2 linked regions of the Homo sapiens genome follow. The main gene of each other region encodes a partner of the protein of the gene in region 2 in a complex. Each region holds a gene or a part of one and is shown on either strand. Other genes may lie near its edges. A codon is read from its position in the direction of its gene.

The links.
Region 1: the proteins of TIMM22 (region 2) and TIMM10 are in contact, whole or in part, in a cryo-EM structure (PDB 7CGP), measured with the Homo sapiens proteins. Residues at the interface, in NP_037469.2 of Homo sapiens: Tyr25 (codon at 3,026), Ser26 (codon at 3,023), Leu28 (codon at 3,017), Leu29 (codon at 3,014), Gln30 (codon at 3,011), Tyr31 (codon at 3,008), Leu32 (codon at 3,005), Val33 (codon at 3,002), Arg40 (codon at 2,981), Leu42 (codon at 2,975), Leu47 (codon at 2,960), Gly48 (codon at 2,957), Glu67 (codon at 2,900), Glu144 (codon at 1,271), Ser145 (codon at 1,268), Tyr146 (codon at 729), Gly148 (codon at 723), Ser150 (codon at 717); in NP_036588.1 of Homo sapiens: Pro3 (codon at 5,247), Ala6 (codon at 5,256), Gln7 (codon at 5,259), Leu9 (codon at 5,265), Ala10 (codon at 5,268), Ala11 (codon at 5,271), Leu13 (codon at 5,277), Glu14 (codon at 5,280), Val15 (codon at 5,283), Met17 (codon at 5,289), Met18 (codon at 5,292), Ala19 (codon at 5,295), Tyr22 (codon at 5,304), Ser44 (codon at 6,570), Lys45 (codon at 6,573), Gly46 (codon at 6,576), Glu47 (codon at 6,579), Arg53 (codon at 6,597), His62 (codon at 6,624), Glu63 (codon at 6,627), Gly66 (codon at 6,636), Leu69 (codon at 6,645), Thr70 (codon at 6,648), Ser73 (codon at 6,657), Met74 (codon at 6,660).

The regions. Positions count from the first base shown.
Region 1 is NC_000011.10:57,527,851-57,535,429, reverse strand, and holds TIMM10 (mitochondrial import inner membrane translocase subunit Tim10), read left to right. Parts: upstream 1-4,675; 5' UTR 4,676-4,772; intron 4,773-5,136; exon of another isoform or gene 5,137-5,195; 5' UTR 5,196-5,240; coding exon 5,241-5,311; intron 5,312-6,511; coding exon 6,512-6,713; 3' UTR 6,714-6,966; downstream 6,967-7,579.
Region 2 is NC_000017.11:993,292-1,000,240, reverse strand, and holds the start of TIMM22 (mitochondrial import inner membrane translocase subunit Tim22), read right to left. Parts: upstream 3,113-6,949; 5' UTR 3,099-3,112; coding exon 2,861-3,098; intron 1,463-2,860; coding exon 1,266-1,462; intron 730-1,265; coding exon 657-729; intron 1-656. UniProt on the Homo sapiens protein: Essential core component of the TIM22 complex, a complex that mediates the import and insertion of multi-pass transmembrane proteins into the mitochondrial inner membrane. In the TIM22 complex, it constitutes the voltage-activated and signal-gated channel.

The sequences.
Region 1 (7,579 bases), on a different chromosome or scaffold from region 2:
ACGATGAATGACAAATATACAACTCACCTTTGCAAGGTTGGGAAGGGGTAGAATGCAGGGTAGAATGAGGAGCCAGAGTTTCAGCATGGTGTTGACAGAGATCAGTAGCTTTGGATGACATATCTGGAGTCTAAGGATATCTTCAAAGTCTGAGGCTATCTAAACTGTCTTCTACAAGAAGCAATTCAACTGGGACCATTGGAGATTCCTACCTGTAGGTCTCCACATAGAGGAAAGACACAGTCTCATAGTAAATAATCATAATAACAATAGCATCATCATCAATAAGAGCAATGGTTTTCCAGAGGCTGAGCAGCTGGGGAGATGGAGAGTTGCTGTTCAATGGGTATACAATTTCAGTTATGCAAGATGAATAAGTTCTAGAAATCTGTGTACAATATGGTACATATAGTTAACAATACTATTTTGTGCACTTAAAAATTTGTTGGCCGGGCGCGGTGTATAAAGCACTTTGGGAGGCCAAGGCAGGTGGATCATGAGGTCAGGAGACTGAGACCATCCTGGCCAACATGGTGAAACCCCATCTCTACTAAAAACACAAAAATTAGCTGGGTGTGGTGGCATGCGCCTGTAGTCCCAGCTACTTGGGAGGCTGAGTCAGGAGAATCCCTTGAACCTGGGAGGCAGAGGCTGTAGTGAGCGGAGATCGTGCCACTATCCTCCAGTCTGGTGACAGAGCGAGACTCCGTTTAAAAAAATTTTTTTTGTTAAGCAGGGCCCAGTGCAGTGACTCATGCCTGTAATGCCAGTGCTTTGGGAGGCTGAGGCAGGAGGATCGCTTGAGGCCAGGAGTTTGAAACCAGCCTGGACAACATAGCAAGACCCTATCTCTACAAAAAATTTTAAAAACCACTCAGGCATGGTGGCTTGCGCCTGTAGTCCTAGCTATTCAGGAGGCTGAGATGGGAGGATTGCTTGAGCCCAGGAGTTTAAGCTAACAGTGAGCTATGATTGGGTCTCTGCACTCCAGGCTGAGCGACAGAGACCCTGTCTCAAGGAAAAAATAAATAAATAAAAGGGCTTTATCTGTTAGAGATAAAAATAGATGAAGAAAATATGGACAAATGTTAACAATTCCTAAGTCCTGGTGATGAATATATGGAAGCTCAATGTCCTGTTCTCTCTGCTTTTCTGTATGTTTTAAATATTCCATCTGGGCATGGGGTGGCTCATGCCTGTAATCCCAGCACTTTGAGAGGCCAAGACAGGAGGATTGTTTGAGCCCAGGAGTTTGAAACCAGCCTGGGAAACATGATGAGACCCTATCTCTTAAAAAAAAAAATTAGCCAGGCATGGTGGCTCATGCCTCTAGTTCCAGCTACTTAGGAGGCTGAGGTAAGAGGATTGCTTAAGCCAAGGAGTTCACGATTGCAGTGAGCACTGATCATACCATTGCACTCAAGCCTGGGTGACAAGGCAAGATCCTGCCTCAAAAATCCTAAGTAAAAATAAAAATAAATTTGCCCCAGTGAAAGTTTAAAAATGAAAAAGAATGAAAACAATGATTTATTTTTATTGAGCATCTACCATGGACTAGGTACTTTACTTACACAATCTTTTATATAAATATTTTTCTTTCTTTCTTTATGGCCAGCTCTTACTCATACTTGTATAATCTTATTTGTTTTCTTTTTTGTAGAGATTTTTAAAACTTTTTATTTAGAAATAATTATAGTTTCACAGGAAGTTGCATTAATAGTACAGAGAGGTCCTGTACGCCCTTTACCAACTTCCACTAAAGGTTAAATCTAACATAACTATATTCAATATCAAAGCCAGATAATTTATATTGGTACAATGTGTGTGTGTAGTAGTTCTATGACTTTTTTTTTCTTTCTTTTTTTTTTTTAGACCGAGTCTTGCTCTGTCGCCCAAGCTGGAGTGCAGTGGCACAATCTCGGCTCACTGCAACTTCTGCCTCCCGCCTCCCGGGTTCAAGCGATTCTCCTGTCTCGCCCTCCTGAGTAGCTGGGACTATAGGCGCATGCCACCACACCCGGCTGATTTTTTTTATTTTAGTAGAGACGGGGTTTCACCATGTTAACCAGGATGGTCTCGATCTCCTGACCTCGTGATCCACCCGCCTCGGCCTCCCAAAGTGTTGGGATTACAGGTGTGAGCCACCGCGCCTGGCTTTTTTTTTTTTTTTGAGACGGAGTCTCACTCTGTCGCCTGGGCTGGAGTGCAGTGGCACGATCTCGGCTCACTGCAACCTCCACCTCCCGGGTTCAAACGATTCTCCTGCCTCAGGCTCCTGAGTAGCTGGGGTTACAGGTGCCCGCCACTACCCCCAGCTAATTTTTTGTATTTTTAGTAGAGACGGAGTTTCACCAACAAGGCTGGTCTCGAACTCCTACCTTGTGATTCGCTCGCCTGGGCCTCCCACAGTGCTGGGATTACAGGCGTGAGCCACCGCACCCTGCCAGTTCTATGACATCTTATCACCTGTGTAGATTCTTGTAACCACCACCACAATCAGGATACAGAATTATCCATCAACACAAAGATCTCTCTTGTGCTACCCTTTACAGGTACACTTCTATCTCCCCATCAACCCTAACACTAGACAATCAGAAATCTCTTCTCCATCTCTATAATTTTGTGATTTTGAGAATGTTACTTAAATGAAATCATACAGTATGCAACCTTTCATAAGGCCCAGTAGATATTGCAAGATTCCTCTTGTAAGAAACCATCTCCTTTTCCCACGCAGTTTCTTAACTTTCCATAATGTTTCTTTTTTGCGGGGAGTGGGGGGTCGGAGTTTCACTCTTGTTGCCCAGGCTGGAGTGCAATGGTGCGATCTTGGCTCACTGCAACCTCTGCCTCCCGGGTTCAAGTGTTTCTCCTGCCTTAGCCTCCTGCTTAGCCTCTTGAGTAGCTGGGATTACAAGCACCCGTCACCACACCGGGCTACTTTTTTGTATTTTTAGTAGAGATGGGGTTTCACCAAGTTGGCCAGGCTGGTCTCGAACTCCTGACCTCAGGTGATCCACCCACCTCAGCCTCCCAAAGTGCTGGGATTACAGGCGTGAGCCACTGCACCCGGCCAATGTTGACTATATTTTCAAAGGCAAAAACCAAGGCAAGATATGTCCATCTGTACAAGAGTATCATAGCAGCATTATTGCATAATAGGCAAAAACTGGAAACAATCCAAACATCCACCAACGGGAGAATGGATAGATGAATTGTGGCATACTCATACAATCAAACACTAGACAGCAATAAAACAGAAGGAATAACAGATGCACACAACAATATGGAGGAAATCTTACAGGTACATTGAGCTAAAGAAGTCAGGCACAAAATAGAAAATAATGTATAATTCCATTTACACGAAGTTCAAGAACAAGGAAAACTAATTGATGGTGATAGAGGTCAGAATAGTGGTTAACTTCGAGAGGGGGTATTGATGGGGAAGGAACACAAGATAACTTTTTGGGGTGCAGGAAGTATTTTATATCTTGATCTGGATGGCGGTTATACAAATGTACATATATAGATACATATATATTTAATTAAGCTTAACATTCGTGTATTTTATGCACTTTATGAATGTTATACCCCAATCTTTAAAAATCAGGGCACAAGTTTGGCAAAGATGAGTCTTCAAAGCAGTAGAAAGGTCAATTGTTTAAAATTAGGATGGTCTTGGACAATTAGGGAAGCTTATGATGACCACACAGAAAATGTCTAGCCCACCTTTTCCAATGGGCAATGTGCCCTTGCGTCATTAATTTACATCTTGTAAATTTATTTTACCAGGAAATTGTGTGACAAATCAAGGGACTGAGTATTGTTTCCTTGTTTCCTTCTTTTTAGTGGGGAATGAGTGAATGGTGCAGTTTGAAGAACACATTAAGTCTTGAAAGTTGGAAAGTTCACCAGTACCCTTCTTTCCCTCACCCAAGATTAGCCCTGGTGGCAGCCGAAATTGCTTTTATTATCTCTTTGTGGCTGAGGACCTCTAACTGTTGAAGAAAACATATTTTACACGTCTTGTCTTTCTGCGAACAGGAAGCCTATCTCGCTTATCTTTGCAACCCCAGACGGGGCTTAGTGTGACCTACACACAGCAGTAATCGCACAACGTCCCGTGGAGCACTGCTTCTCAAATTTGGCTGTACATACGAATCACCTGGGGAATTTTAAATTGTATTGCTGCCTGAGGAATTTTAAACTGTACTCCCAGAGATTCTGATTTAATTGAAATGAGGTGAGTCCTGGGCACTGGGATGTTTAAAAACGTTCCAGGTGATTTTAACGCGAAACAAAAACAGAACCGCTGTTTGGGGGCGTTCTTCCTTCTCCACGCCTGATTTGCGCACAGGAGTCGGCTGTCTGGAACGGGGGTGAGGTTCACAGGTGTCTGTCGCCACGCCTCTTCCTACAGAACCAATAAACTGAAGCCGCTCGGTGACATCCCAAAGGACTTGAATTCTGATCGGGCTGCAGACGCTCTGCACCCCGCCCAAGCTTCTATGGTACTTTGGTGTCCTCTCTAGCACTGGCAAGTCGCCTTCCTCTTCGCCCGGCGCCAGCCGCTCCCTCTCTATGATCGCCGAGTTCCCGGCGCCGTCTCGTTGGTATTTAATTCCGGAAGCGAGTTTGAATCAAAGAAGAGGCGGGACTTTCCTCCCGGAAGTAACCCACGTGCTTCCGCTGGAGCCTCTCGGGAGGCGGGTAACGTTATAGTATTTGTCAGAAGTTGGGGTCTCCGTGGGCATTGTGATCCGTCCCAGGCAGTGGTAAGTGACACATGACCTCTGAATTCAATGTGGCCCTGATGATGGCGTCGCCATTTCAGAGGTGTAGCCTTTGGGCTGGGTCCCGGTCGCCTCTGTTCAGCGTATGATCCCATTCCCAGGGCCCTGGAGGTTCAGGTTCGTGGGTTAGAGAGTTCTCCTCCGGTCCTCGATCTCCTGAATAGAGGTGACCTCCAGGAACTGGGGCATCAGAGATCCGGGGCTCGATTTCCAGGCTCGCCATAGACGTCCTGTGCGACCTTGGGCTAGGCCTCAGTTTCCACATCCGTGAAATGGGGTGGTTAAGCTCACTGAGGTTAGTGGCCCGTGGTGGTCTGGCGCCCTGTGAGTCCTCTGTATCCTCTAGCCCCAGGGGTAGGAGAGTGAACGGCGGCGGTGGGTGCTGATGGTGATGTCTGCTCCCAGGATTAGGAGGCCAGAAGGAGATCCCTTCCACGGTGCTAGGCTGAGATGGATCCTCTCAGGGCCCAACAGCTGGCTGCGGAGCTGGAGGTGGAGATGATGGCCGATATGTACAACAGGTAAAGAGAACTATGTGCTACCCTGTCTTGGAAAATAAGTCTTGGTCACCCTTATCGAAGGTGAATGACTTATGACAAATTCCTTCCTGAATGTAGGGGAGCCTGAGGCCCATGCTTACCCTCCCCACACCCACCTTCAAGGTTGATCCTAATGTAGATGCAGTAAAGGGTCACTAGAATGAGTTGGGCATTTAGATGGGGATGGAACTGGCAATGCAGGAGCCAAGCAGGAAGAGAAACTCCAATCCAGGCTCTGGTTAGGTTCCAAGAAAAGCTGAGTATTTGCCTCTTGACAAATAGCACATAGCCAGCCCATTTAGTAGTTAACATTTTAAAACCCTTTATTCTGTGTCAGGCACTTGTTAATCTTCAAAATAATCCAGTGGGTTAATTTTATTAGTCCCGTCTTAAAATGAGGAAATTGATGATTCTAGAGGTTAAGTAACTTCCTTAGGGTCGGCAGCTGGTCAGTAACAATGCCAGAACTAGCACCTCAGTCTGATTCTGCAACTAGTGCTCATAACCATTTGGCAAATTTGGGAACAAATCCTGGCTCCACCAATCACCAGCAGTATAATTGGACATGTTACTTGCACTGTTTGACAATTGGTTTCCTCATTATGAAGAAGACATAATGATACCTACCTCATAGGACATCATAAATATTAAATCTAAAAATATATGAAAGCCCTTAGCCTCAAGCCCAACACTTAGTGAAATGTCTGCTATTTTTATTGGCTTAAGCTCTCTTGATTGGTTGGTTTATCCTGAAGGCTATAAATTAGAAGGATTTTTAAGTGTAGACTGTGAGGTCAGATGACCTGGCTTCATAACCCAGCTCTGTGTGATCCTTAGAAAATTACTGAGCCTCTGTTTGCCTTAATTTCCTCATCTGTAAAATGGGGATACATGTCTCTTAGGGTTATTGTAAGCATTGCATAACAGAATGCAGGTAAAGCACTTAGCAGGATGCCTGGCATGTAGCCAGTCCTCAACAAATGGTTTCTACTTAGTTAGTCATATACATGGACTTAGACAAGTTTCCTACTTGCAAGGACCTTCCAGTGGTTGAGGTGTAAACTGAGGATTTACACTGCTTTCTTGGGGGAGGTGAAATCAATATAGCAGGGCTGGAATGGTCAAGGTTCCTGGGATGTCACAGGATGCTGCTGACATGACCTTGCCCCTCCCTCCCTCCAGAATGACCAGTGCCTGCCACCGGAAGTGTGTGCCTCCTCACTACAAGGAAGCAGAGCTCTCCAAGGGCGAGTCTGTGTGCCTGGACCGATGTGTCTCTAAGTACCTGGACATCCATGAGCGGATGGGCAAAAAGTTGACAGAGTTGTCTATGCAGGATGAAGAGCTGATGAAGAGGGTGCAGCAGAGCTCTGGGCCTGCATGAGGTCCCTGTCAGTATACACCCTGGGGTGTACCCCACCCCTTCCCACTTTAATAAACGTGCTCCCTGTTGGGTGTCATCTGTGAAGACTGCCAGGCCTAGGCTCTCTGTAGAGAGTCTTCAAGATCCCGGAGTGGTAGCGCTGTCTCCTGGTGAAGGAGTATTTGTCACACTGGAATGTGACTGTGTGTGTATGTATGTGTATATATATATATATATATATATATATATATATAAACAAGTTTGTTGACACCTACTATGTGCAAAGCAGTGTGCTTGGCATTTGAGAGTAAAGAAAACAGACACAGCCCCTACCAGCAGAGGGAGATTAATGAGTGTTTAAGAGTAAGACAGGCCGGGCAAGGTGGCTCATGCCTGTAATCTCAGCACTTTGGGAGGCTGAGGTGGGTGGATCACTTGAGGTCAGGAGTTCAAGACCAGCCTGGCCAACATGGCAAAACCCCGTCTCTACTAAAAATACAAAAATTAGCTGGGTGTAGTGGCGGGTGCCTGTAATCCCAGCTACTCAGGAGGCTGAGGCAGGAGAATCGCTTGAACCCAGGAGGCGGAGGTTGCATGAGCTGAGATTGTGCCACTGTCCTCCAGCCTGGGCAACAGAGTGAGACTCCATCTCAAAAAAAAGTAAGACAGCTTAGGTTTGCCTGCTGTCTGCTGCTTTTTGTGTGGCCCTGCACCTGTCACTTTTGTGTGCTTTAGCTTCCGCATCTGTAAAATAGGGTTAGCCCCCTGACTAATCCTGTTTTACAGATGAGCAAGCTGAGGATTTAAGAAGTAAGTTGCTTGCTGGAGCAAGCTTGCTGGAGGTCACACAAGCAGAACAATACCATGGAGGCCAGACCTGACTGCTG
Region 2 (6,949 bases):
TTATAATTTATATCTAAAATTAAAAGACAATTGTCTAGAATTACTGAGAAAAATGTTGGCCACACGTGGTGGCTCATGCCTGTAATCCCAGCACTTTGGGAGGCTGAGGCAGGCAGATCACGAGGTCAGGAGTTCGAGACCAGGTGAAATTGATCTCTACTAAAAAAATAAAAATTAGCTGAGCATGGTGGCGGGTGCCTGTAATCCCAGCTACCTGGGAAGCTGAGGCAGGGGAATCGCTTGAACCCAGGAGGTGGAGGTTGCAGTGAGCTGACATCGTGCCACTGCACTCCAGCCTGGGCGACAGAGTGAGATTCGGTCTCTTTAAAAAAAAAAAAGTTGTTACAACGGACGGGGGTGCTACTTGCATCTCGTGGGTAGAGGCCAGGGATACTGCTCAACGTCTTAGAATGCACAAAACAGACCCAATCCCGACAAAGATTCGTCTGGTCGAAATGTCAGTAGTGCCAACGATGGGAAACCCTCATCTAGATCCTACAAGTTTCCAAAACCGAGTTACCACAGAAACAAACATGATTTATTTGTCAGAGGGAAGAAGATCAAGTGTCCCTGGAACACTCGTGTGTTTGGAAATGACAACCTCAGCACGTTGTCCAAGGCCACAAAGAAAAAGCATTCGAGAGCCGTTTACTAACCTCTGAAACCAATAGCTCCTCCCGTGATGCAGCCACTGATGACACTGTTCTTCCAGTCTGATGTTCCCCGGTACTGTGGGCAGGGAAGTACACGTTAGAGCCAAAGAAACAAGCCAAGGCAGACCATTAAGGAGGAATACACAGGGTTGCTCGTTAGCTCATTCAGTCCCTACCCAAAGGAAACCTAATCTTTCTTGAAAATATAGTTCCTAAGTATACAGCGTGTATATATATATATATATATATATATATATATATATAGTATGCGTTCATAGATGCTTCCTGCAGGTGGCACCAGAGTGCTGAAACCAAGCCCAGCATTTGGAATGTAATCAAAATTTCTTCAAGGGGCTCTCCAATAAGTCTCGTTTAAAATCATTAGCTAACTTCTAGCCTACAAAAAGTAAAAAATAATGCAAGCCCATACTGTAAACACACACAAAGTCTGCCACAGGGACTATTTTATGGAAGTTCAACCTAGAATGTATCTGATGCTTCTGATTTGCTTTCTAGTAACAACTTTCAAATGACTTTTAAAGAGCAATTTCTCTTTAAAAGTAATGAAATGGTGGCCCCAGCAAGGATTTCTTAGAAGGCAGAGACACTTACAGATTCTATCAAACACTCAGTACAAGAAAACATGGCTCCCACAATGGCGAAATTTTTGGCATAGGACATTCCTCTCTGCCCCATGTCTTTCAGCACTTCTTTTGCAGTCGGTGTACGGTAAGGATCCTTAGGGTCAAAGCCCACGTTGGTATCGATGCCAGCGGTAAACACCCCAAATGCACCTCCTAAGACAAATCCTAGAAGCAAACACAGAGATGAAGGTGTCTTTGGCATGTTTTCTGCATTACTCTATTGGGATCATCCTGGAAGGGACCATGCTTTTGGATGACCACCGGTGCAGAGGACACCCCCCTCTTGCCACTCAAACTCTCCACTTGCCTGGAGACTTGCAATCCAGGGTCTATGTTACTGACATCATCTTCTCCGTCTCTAAGATTTCTTCCTCCTGTCATTCCCTAACATTTCTCAAGATTCCATCTTTAACCCTCTATTCTCTCTACATTCTCTCATATGTAAACCAGCCACCCTCAACTTCAGCTATCAACTTTGCAAATCACTCTCTTGGCCACTGTGACATTCACAGTAATGCTTTACTGAGCACATGCCAGTATGCCACAGCCTCATTCATTCTTCACAATAATCCAGTGAGACAGATGCTATTAGCCTCTCCTTTCTATAAACTGAGGCTCAGAGAGGTTAAGCAACTTCTCCCAAGGCCACACAGCTACCTAATGGCAAATCCCACACTGCTGCCACATCTGTCCTTCCTGAGCCGGCTGGACATGTCCAGATGGATGCCCTCTCATGACCTCATGGTCAATATGAGTTTAATAAAATCATGGGCACCTCCCCTTCAACTTAAGGGAAAAACAGAAGGACAAGTGCAGACTTCGTCTCTCCTTGCTCGGGGCTGTCTAGTCACAATGGTCTTTCAGTTTTTCAAACCTCAAACAACTGCTGCCCTAGAGTCGTCTGCATGTGCATTTCCATATGTCTGCATCCTTCCTCTGCAGTGTTCCTGCTCAACATTCTTCTCCACATAGTATAATACAGGCCCCATGAAGACCAGGCTCTTGTCTCTTTCACCTGGCACGTGATATTGCTTAGGAACAATTTGTTGAAAGAATTATTTAAGAGAATGAATTTAAGGGAATGAACGGATGAATGAAGTCACCCACGTAATAACTTTTTGTTGTTGTTTTTGAGACGGAGTCTCGCTCTGTCGCCCAGGCTGGAGAGCAGTGGCACATCTCGGCTCACTGCAAGCTCCGCCTCCTGGGTTCAAGCGATTCTCCTGCCTCAACCTCCCGAATAGCTGGGACTACAGGCGCCCACCACCACGTCCAGCTAATTTTTTGTATTTTTAGTAGAGACGGGGTTTCACCGTGTTAGCCAGGATGTCATGTAATAACTTTCAGGCCCCAACCACAGCACCGATTCTCTAACCCAATTTTCATCAGGAAAGCCGGCCTGAGGGGGCAGGAGAGGTGACGCCCGATTCACGAACGAGGCGAGGGTGTGGTCAAGGTCAAGGCCCGCAGTCCCTCGCCTCCCAGGCGCGTGGTCTTCTCGGCAGAGATCCCCACTGCCGTCCAGGCCCTCAGCCTCCCAAGGGTCCCATCGCCCGGCCTCACCTCCCACGCAGGCCAGCGCAGCCTTGAAAGCGCAGCTTTCCATCGCCTTCTCGATCATCTTCTGCTCCTCACTCTTGGCTGGACTTGGGATCCCGCCCAGGCTCCCAGGCTCCAGGAGCCGGGGCTGACGCTTGTCACCCACCAGGTACTGCAGGAGCAGGCTGTACTGCAGCGGAGCTTCGGCGGAACCCGCTGTCTCAGGGGCCGAGCCTCCGGCATTGGGGGCGGCCGCCGCCATGACAGTCGCTGCCCAAGCAACCCTCGCGTCCTTCTCCCCGCAGCAGATTCGACAAGCGTCACGTTGCGGGCCCTGAGACTAGCCACTGTGATGCAACGGCAGATTCGCCGCAGGAGGAAGCCGCGGCCGCAACGCTCCTGGTGCGCACACCAGCGAGACCGCTATCATGTTTCCAAAAAGAAAGCCTCTTGTGAAAATGGAATTGGGCTTGGACAGCTTTCCCCATGTCACAGACAAACGAGATTCAGATTCACCAGAAAGCGCCCTCACGGTCGGGGCTGCAGCGCGGTGAGTACCGGGATTTGTAGTTCTAATCCGACACCCAACTACATTTCCCAGGAAGCGTTGCGCGTGCTCTCGCGCCTCGGCCCCGCGCGGGGCTCTTACGAGCTCCTGAGGGGAGCGAGGAGTGGCCGCGCGCTCCGGGGCTGCCGTGCTCCGGATCGCCGGGAGGGGACGCGCGAGCATTGTCGCTGCCCTTTCCACCTCGTGCTGTCATCGGGCGGTGAGGCGTTAAATCCCGTGGTCCCGGAAGGTGCGGTGAGAGGTGGATGCTTTGTAGATAAGCGTGAACTTGTGCTGTAAATGCACGGACCGGGCGCGGGGGCTCACGCCTGTCATCCAGCACTGTGGGAGGCCGAGGCCGGTGGATCACGAGGTCAGGAGTTCGAGACCAGTCTGACAAACATGGTGAAACCCCATCTCTACTAAAAATTAAAAAAATAAAAAATAAAAAAATTAGCTGGGCATGGTGGTGCACGCCTGTATTCTCAGCTACTTAGGAGGCTGAAGCAGGAAACCCCGTCTCTACTAAAAATATAAAAATTAGCCAGGTGGCGGCAGGCGCCTGTAATCTCAGTTACTCGGGAGGCTGAGACAGGAGAATCTCTTAAACCCGGGAGGTGGAGGTTGCAGTGAGCCAAGATCGCACCATCGCACTCCAGCCTGGGCGACAAGAGCAAGACTCCGTCTCAAAAAAAAAAAAAAAAAAAAAAAAATCCTAACTGACAGCATTTGCTGACTTGTGTGGTGTTAATATCCCCATCATGGCTGATTTCAAACTACCAAGCGAGGTCATCAGTCAGAATTGGGAAGACGTACAGCAGCATGTGGTTACATGGTGTTTCTATCACACAGATACAATCTATGGAAATAACCTCAACAGCATAGATAGGAGTACAGTGTAGTAAAATTTTTAGGAGGGGATGAGTTTTGAGCACATATTACCTATTTTTAGTGTAATTTATTATAAATGTATAGAATGTAATTTTTAATAATAACTGTGCTTAACAACCAGCTCAAAAACTCCTGATAATTTGTTGCCTTACTTTTTAAAATTACTCTTTTGAGACAGAGTCTTGCTCTGTCACCCAGGTTGGAGTGCAGTGGTGCAATCTCCGCTCACTGCAACCTGCACCTCCCGGGTTTGAGCGATTCTCCTGCCTCAGCCTCCCGACTAGCTGGGATTACAGGCACATGCCACCATGCCCGGCTAATTTTTGTATTTTTAGTAGAGACAAGGTTTCACCATGTTGGCCAGGCTGGTCTCAAACTCCTGACCTCAGGTGACCCACCCACCTCGGCCTCCCAAAGTGCTTGGATTCCAGGCGTGAGTCACTGCGCCCGGCCAGTTAGGGCCTTTTTGTTATTGTTGTTAAACATTTACCATTATACCACTGCACTGCAAGCATATTTTGGGAACCAAGAACACTTCCTCCTCTTTGAGGAAACCAGAATTGGGGCCTGGAGGCAGAGAAATTGGGAATGGATTTCTGGTCATATCCAGGAAAATCCTAGGGGATGTTGGAGAGAGGTTTTCAGTCCCAAGAATGCTAACACTTTGGCATCATTTTGTACTCCTCGTATGAACAAAACGTGGCCTGGGAACACCTCTGGGCATTTAAGCACACTTTTTGCTAATGGCCTGAAGGCAGTGCCGTAGCAAGCATCTGCCTACTTGGGCCAGGGACTCTCAGAAGATGTTGATCGGAAAAGATTCCTCTGCTGGGCATGGTGGCTCACACCTGTAATCCCAGCACTTTGGGAGGCTGAGGCAGGAAAATTGCTTGAGTCTGGGAAGTTGAGACTGCAGTGAGTCATGATCGTGCCACTGCACTCCAGCATGGACGAGGGAACGAGACCCTGTCTCAAAAAAAAGAAAAAAAAAAGATTAAGTAAACAGTGGTCATTTTATTCAGAGGGCTGAAAAACAATTTCCATCAAGGGCTGCGAAAGGGCTGGGGTGTTCCATAGCCCAGGAGCCTCACAGGTATGTCTGAGTTGTAAGAGGAAGTGAAGTGTCCTTCTTTTAAGGGTCTTGGCTGGGCGCGGTGGCTCACACCTGTAATCTCAGCACTTTGGGAGGCTGAAGCAAGGTCAAGAGATCGAGACCATCCTGGCCAACATGATGAAACCCTGTCTCTGCTAAAAATACAAAAATTAGCTAGGCATAGTGGCTGCACCCCTGTAGTCCCAGCTACTCAGGAGGCTGAGGCAGCAGAATCGCTTGAACCCACGAGGCGGAGCTTGCAGTGAGCCGAGATGGTGCCACTGTACTCCGGCCTGGAGACAGACGGAGACTCCGTGTCAAAAAAAAGAAAAAAAAGGTGGGGGTTGGGTCTTTGGGGTCCCAGAGAAGAAATGGGTGGGACCTAAGGAGCCATACTGGAAACCATACTTTTGGGACATGTTGCCCGAGATGAGGATGGAATACCCCACCCGGCAGAAATGGAGACCAGACAGCTGCACAGTCTTATGTGAGGGTGGATTATGTGAGGTGGATTATGTGAGGGTGGATTATGTGAGGGGTGGATTATGTGAGGGTGGATTATGTGAGGTGGATTATGTGAGGTGGATTATGTGAATGTGGGTGGATTATGTGAGGGTGGATTATGTGAGGGTGGATTATGTGAGGGTGGATTATGTGAGGGTGGATTATGTGAGGTGGATTATGTGAGGGTGAATTATGTGAGGGTGGATTATGTGAGGTGGATTATGTGAGGGTGGATTATGTGAGGTGGATTATGTGAGGGTGGATTATGTGAGGTGGATTATGTGAGGTGGATTATGTGAGTGTGGATTATGTGAGGGTGGGTGGATTATGCGAGGTGGATTATGTGAGGTGGATTACGTGAGGGTGGATTATGTGAGGGTGGATTATGTGAGGGCGGATTATGTGAGGTGGATTATGTGAGGGTGGGTTATGTGAGGGGTGGATTATGTGAGGTGGATTATGTGAGGTGGATTATGTGAGGGGTGGATTATGTGAGGTGGATTATGTGAGGGTGGATTATGTGAGGTGGATTATGTGAGGGTGGATTATGTGAGGTGGATTATGTGAGGTGGATTATGTGAGGTGGATTATGTGAGTGTGGATTATGTGAGGGTGGATTATGTGAGGGTGGATTATGCGAGGTGGATTATGTGAGGGTGGGTGGATTATGCGAGGTGGATTATGCGAGGTGGATTATGTGAGGTGGATTATGTGAGTGTGGATTATGCGAGGGTGGATTATTTGAGGGTGGATTATGTGAGGCGGATTATGTGAGAGTGGATTATGTGAGGGTGGATTATGTGAGGGTGGATTATGTGAGGTGGATTATGTGAGGGTGGATTATGTGAGGGTGGATTATGTGAGGGTGGATTATGTGAGGTGGATTATGTGAGGGTGGATTATGTGAGGGTGGATTATGTGAGGTGGATTATGTGAGTGTGGGTGGATTATGTGAGGTGGATTATGTGAGGGGTGGATTATGTGAGGGTGGATTATGTGAGGTGGATTATGTGAGGTGGATTATGTGAGGGTGGATTATGTGAGGGTGGATTATGTGAGGTGGATTATGTGAGGGTGG